Regions from separate parts of the Homo sapiens genome. Here region 1 is linked to region 2. Evidence: fine-mapped expression QTL. A gene starts in region 2. The other region holds a variant in brackets. All regions are shown on one strand. Distances are from middle to middle.

Evidence for each region. PIP is the estimated chance that this variant, and not a neighbour inherited with it, causes the effect. A credible set is the group of variants that fine-mapping cannot tell apart.
Region 1: its variant is the best candidate, but not a certain one, in a credible set for the expression of KDM6B in whole blood (INTERVAL, PIP 0.55).

What each region holds. Positions count from the first base shown.
Region 1 is chr17:7,873,629-7,876,534 of GRCh38, reverse strand. It overlaps a transcript of NAA38 not described here. Among named protein-coding and RNA genes, the nearest start is that of CHD3, 14 kb to the left of the region's middle. The variant T/A (reference allele first, on the strand shown) is at 1,328.
Region 2 is chr17:7,833,097-7,835,946 of GRCh38, reverse strand. It overlaps KDM6B (lysine demethylase 6B), which reads right to left and starts at 1,730. Exons shown (of 24, transcript NM_001348716.2): 1 at 1,597-1,730. It overlaps DNAH2 (dynein axonemal heavy chain 2), which reads right to left. Exons shown (of 86, transcript NM_020877.5): 85 at 2,726-2,850; 86 at 2,205-2,568. The coding sequence ends at 2,414. LOC124904106 (translation initiation factor IF-2) reads left to right here. Exons shown (of 4, transcript XM_047437265.1): 4 at 1-539. The coding sequence ends at 330. RefSeq lists silencers at 1-348, 1,599-1,758 and enhancers at 897-1,396, 2,027-2,638.

The DNA of each region.
Region 1 (2,906 bases), 41 kb before region 2:
AGGAAGTAAAAGGGCAGTTTAGGTGGGATAAGAAAGAATTTAGTAGGTAGTATGTAGACCTCATATGGCTGGAGTGGTAAGTTCATGATAGGTTATAGTAGGAGTTAGTACCTCTTTAAAGGGTAAGAATTTTAGTATATCAAGTGAAGAGTAGAGGTCAGAACCTTGGGGGAACTTTGAAGGATGGAGTAGCCAAAGAAAAACAAGTTGTTCAAGTGTTAAGTGTACCAGGTAGTGTTGTTATGGTAGAGTAGGCAGACAGCTTCAGAAGGAAGGCATGATCATTGATACTAGATGCTTCGTGGGAATCAAGAAGAGTACAAACTGACAGTTCCTCAAAAAGTTAAATATAGAGCTACCATATGACCTTGCAATTTCAATACTAAGTGTACACCCAAGATAATTGAATCATATGTCCACACATAAAGTTGTGCATGAATATTCATAGAAGCATTATTCATAATAGCCAAAAAGTGTAAACAAAAATATCCATCAACTGATGAATGGATAAATATAGTATATCCATACAATGGAATATTATTCAGCCGTAAAAAGGAATGGAATACTGATACATGCTATAAGATGGATGAACTTTGAAAACATTATGCTAAGTAAGAGAAGTTAGACATAAAAGGCCACATATTATTTGATGCCATTTATATGAAATGTCCAGAATAGGCAACTAGTAGATCTGTGGTTGTGCAGGTTTCAGGGAAGGGAAGAATGGGAGGGACTGCTAATGGATATGGGGTTTCTTTTGGGGGTGATGGAAATGTCTGGAATTCTGGATAATGGTGATAGTTGCACAGCCTTGTGAATATACTAAAAACCCCTGAATTCACTTTAAAATGGTGAATAAGGTATATTAATTCTATCTGAATTTCTTTTTAATACAAACCAGCCAATACAGTGACTCACACCTGTAATCCCAGTGCACTTTGGGAGGCCAAGAGAGGAGGATCGCTTGAGGCCAGGAGTTTAAGACCAGCCTGAGCAACATAGCAAGACTATCTCTACAAAAAAAGTTTAAAAATTAGCCAGGCATGGTGGCTCATGCCTGTAGTCCTACCTACTCAGGAAACTGAAGCAGGAGGAGAGCTCAGCCCAGGAGCTGGAGCCTGCAGTGAGCTATGATTACACCACTGCACTGCAGCCTGGGCAACACAGTGAGACTCTGTCTCTAAAAAAAAAACAGTACAAACCAAGAAAAGTATTGTACTTGTCATTTGGTCACCTTTAAAGCCAGTTTTAGTGAGGAAGTTAAATATCAATTAAAGATTGTGAGAAACCATTAAAATATTACTTATGGAGGGTTTTTTGTTTTGTT[T/A]TGTTTTGTTTTAGAGACAGGGTCTTGCTTTGTCACCCAGGCTGGAGTGCAGTGGCGTGATCACAGCTCACTGCAGCCTCGAACTCCTAGGCTCAAGCTTTCCTCCTCCCTCATCCTCCCAAGTAGCTGGACTACAGGCACACACCACCACAACCGGATAGTTTTAAAATTTTTTGTAGAGATGGGATCTCGCTGTGTCGTTCAAATTGGTCTTAAACTCTTGGCCTCAAGCGATCCTCCCACCAGTGGCCTTCTGAAGTGTTGGGATTACAGGTGTGAGCCACCACACCCGACCTAATTTTTTTTTTTTTTTTTTTTTTTTGAGATGGAGTTTTGCTCTTATTGCCGAGGCTGGAGTGCAGTGGCACAATCTTGGTTCACTGCAACCTCCACCTCCTGGTTCAAGCGATTCTCCTGCCTCAGCCTCCTAGGTAGCTAGGATTACAGGCGCCCGCCACCACACCCAGCTAATTTTTGTATTTTTAGTAGAGATGGGGTTTCACCATGTTGGCCAGGCTGGTCTCAAACTCCTGACCTCAAGTGATCCACCCACCTTGGCCTCCCAAAGTGCTGGGATTACAGGTGTGAGCCACTGCACCTGGCTAATTCTTTATCTCTACTGTTGCCTCCAGATTCCCTCATCTTGTGTAAGAAGCCCCTATTTCTTTAAGGCTGCAGCAGTCTTGCTGTGTGCTCCTTACCTTCTCTTCCTCAGTGTTTTCTACTTATCTCCTGACATTTCCTTCATTCATTGAAGACTGACATCTGGCTTAGTCCTGCCATCATCTTGGGTGACCTTAGGATCCACATGAATGATCTATTCATCACCCAGACTTTTTGGTCCCTTGATCCCCTTATTTCCAGAGACCTTTCTAGCCATCCCACTTCTGGCCCCATCTCTGGACTTCCTTTTGAAGTATTAAATTCAAACCCCCAACTTGGGCCACAACTTTCTATCCTTCTAGCCCCCTCATTTACTTCTACTCTGTTCTTGGACCCACCATGAGACAATGTAGTCCCTTAGCTCCTCATTTTCTCCTAATCAGCTATACCATCTTCACCTCTTTTCCTATCCAGCTTAAGTTCCATGGTCTATCATTTTAACCATGCTCCTGCCACTGTCTTGGTGCCCTCTTCTTATTTTCCTTCCTGCAAACCCCTGGCCTTGTATCACTTTGGTTGCTTGTTTACACCCAGGATGCAAAGGGCTGCTGAAGAAAACACCATGACCATTCAGACCAGTGTTTCTGTTCAGGAATCCTTTTTCCTAGTCAGCTTTCTTTTAGTTCTCCACAGTGACTTCCTCAAAACCTTCTCCTTACACTAGTTCATTTTAAAGAAAAGGATACCTATGTTCATTTTAATATCATAATGGATAGAAAATCTTATCTACTTCCAGGAGATAGATTATCATATGAGAACTCCCTTGAAATTCCAATACTCAACTACATGTTTAACTCTATCCATATTTGTCCTTTTATCCTGTCCTCCTGTCCTGTCTGAAGCTAATGCCTATACTTGGGCTCTTAGTCTCACCCCTGCCACCTTCTCAGGGACTAATGGTTAGCAGCGATCCTCT
Region 2 (2,850 bases):
GTCGGCCCTCCCGAGCCAGGCTGGGCATTATGGTCGCGACCGGCGAAACGGTGCAGACCGACCGAGACGTGTGGGTCCCCAGGGGCTGAAGAGCGCAGCCTCAGGCGGCTTTACACAGACTCCACGAGGGGAGGGGGGCGCCCGGCTCGCCGCGCAGGCGCAAGGGGGTGCTCGGGCGCGTGCGGCGCAGGGCGGGGGGTGGGCGCGAGCGTGTGGGAGTGCACGTGCGGGTCCCAGGCAGCTGCTGCCTCCCAGCCTCCGCCGCTGCCCCTCCCCTCTCCCTTTCCTGTCGCTATCATCCCCCTTCCCCATTGGCTGCCAGGGCCCTGACGTCAGGGCCGACCGCTGGAGCGGATTGGGCGGACGGGAGAGTTCGGGAATCCGGCTCCCAAGTCTCGCCCTCCAGTTACTCTGGCAACAGGACAAGCAACCCAGGGGAGGGAAGGGGAGCCGAGGTCAACGCTGCGCCTCGGTCCCTAACCCCCTCCGGACAACCACCGAGTCCCCTTCGGTCGCGGCGCAGCTCGCTACCTCCCCGCCTTCCTCCCAGGGCTCTTCCTGTCCCGGGAACCAGGCGTCCTGCCCTCGGCCTTCCCCACAGTCTTCAGGCCCTCCGCTGTCTCTAACCCCCACCAGTGTCACAACATAAGCTGCAGCAAACAGGAAGCGAATCTACGTCGCTTAGCAACCACCCCGCGTGCCCCCCTCCCCACTATTTACCCCAGCCGGGAGAGGCGGAGATTGAGTCCCCAGCCCCCTCCCCGTCTTCTGCGCTGCGACCTCCTGCCCACAATTTCCTGTGAGGGGGCCCAGATCACAGGAAGTCAAGTGGGGGCCTCAGCCTACCTTTCCCTCGGACCGGGGCGGGGGGCTTCAGCTACTTTCACGGTCACATCCCCCACCTGCCCTGGGTGCGTCTCGCCCTCGCCATCTTGTGGCTACGTTGGGAAGGCTCCGCACCGAGAAGCCGTGCGGGGCGCGCTAGGGTTCGGGAACGGCGGAGTGGGAGAAGGACTAGGGATGAGGAGGCTAGCGGGGCGAGACGGAGTGAAAGGGAGGCGCAGGGGGGTGGTGGGAAGAAGGCGAAGGCTACCGCTGGGAAGCTCTCGGGGCCGCTGGTGGGAAGGTCAGGCTGAGGCTTCTACACCTCACCCGTGCAGAGAACTGGAGGGAGACTTAAAGTAGTCCTGGGACCGGGACACACCCAAGTCTGACCACATCTGACCTTACTGGGCCATGGCATTGACCTGTCTGCAAACTCTGCCCTTTAGTCCTGCCCTTCAGTAAGGACCGCCGCGCCCCGCCCCGCCCCGCCCTGGAGTCGGGAAGGGGAATCCCAGCCCAAGGGGAACGGGGAGTCCTTTCAGGCCCCTCTGGACATTTGGAACCTGAGACATCTGCCTCCCAGTTCTTCCTCCTTCCCCGCCGTTCTCTCTTCTAGGGGACCCATGACCTCCGCCCCAGTCTTCTTCCCAGTGCCCTTCCCAAGACCCAAACGTCCATCCCCAGCTCTACCCCTCCAGAGACTCAGGCGTCCTGCCCTGCTGCAAGGAGAGGGTTTCCCTCTTTACAGACGTCCTCGCGGCTCCCCGTTACCTGGTTCTGGGGGGGGTCCCAGGTGTTCAGGCTCCCCAAGGTATCCCAGGGGGTCGAGCGGCCCCCCCTTCTCCCAGGCCGGGGCTGGGGGGGCCGCTCCGCCCAGTGGCGCAGTTGGATTTTCCAACACAAACACCCGCACCCCCGCTCCCCAGCCCCGCCCCCTTGTGGTCCCGCCCCTCCTCGCGCTCTAGTCCCCCTCTCCGGCTCCGCCCCGTCTTCTGCCGGTCCCGCTCGCCTCAGGGCGGGTGCCGGCTAGGATGCCGGGTGCGGGGTGCGGGCTTCAGGGTGCGGGCCTCAGGGTGCAGTGTACGGGGTTCAGCCCTGATCCCTGCCTGACAAATCCCTACTCATTTGGATCACGCGCCCTTCTAAGGTAAGCCCCGCCCCACCCACTGAAGTCCTGCCCGGAGACTTAAGCCACAGCCTCTTCAGGCGGCTCCGCCCTGCCCATTCGTTCAGGGCCACGCCTCCGTTCCGCTCCAGGCCGCCCCACCTCCCTCGCTTCTTTCCCCGTCCAGTAGCAGCTCCGCAGTAGCTCTGTCCTCCGTGAGGCCTGGGCTTCCTCCCTCCCCAGACCCTCACCATTGCATTGAGAGACTTAAGGCTTGTTGTCGCGGGTGTTTTACAGCACTGAGCTCCAATACAACTCTTTCACTTTTATGGCTAACACAACTAGGTATCTCCAGGGCCACATCACACAAATTCGGCCAAGGTCAAAGTCTGAGTGAGGTCCGGCCTCAGTCCTAGGTGCAACATCTGTCTTAGCTCCTGGAGTCCCTGACCCTCTCTCTCAAGCGGAGAAGAGGAGGAGGTCTCAGCTGTCCAGGCTCATGAGTAGAGCAGTGCCCCTCTTGATCCAATGATCAGGTGTCATGGCCCCAGACCGCAGGTCAATGCCGATGACAAAGGAGGCTCGGTCTGAGCTGCCTGCCCGGTTGGGATAGTAATAGCAGGGGCAGGAGTACATGCCTGGGGGAAAGGAGAGGAGAAGTCAGACCCCTGGAGCCTCCGGGAGAGCAGGGCAGGAGCAGGGCAGGAGCGGGTGTGGGATGGGCTGGAGCAGAGAATGGGTTAAGTTCCAAACTAGGGACGGGGCAGGCAGGTCCTGCCTGGGGAGCTGTCCCACCCTTGGCGCTCTTCTTGCGGCTCTCTGCAGGCCGGAAGTGGATCGTGGGCATGAGGCAGACAAGCTGCATGGGCTCTGCCTCCACCAAGCAGGAGTTCTTCCGGTCCCAGCCAGCACCTTCCAGG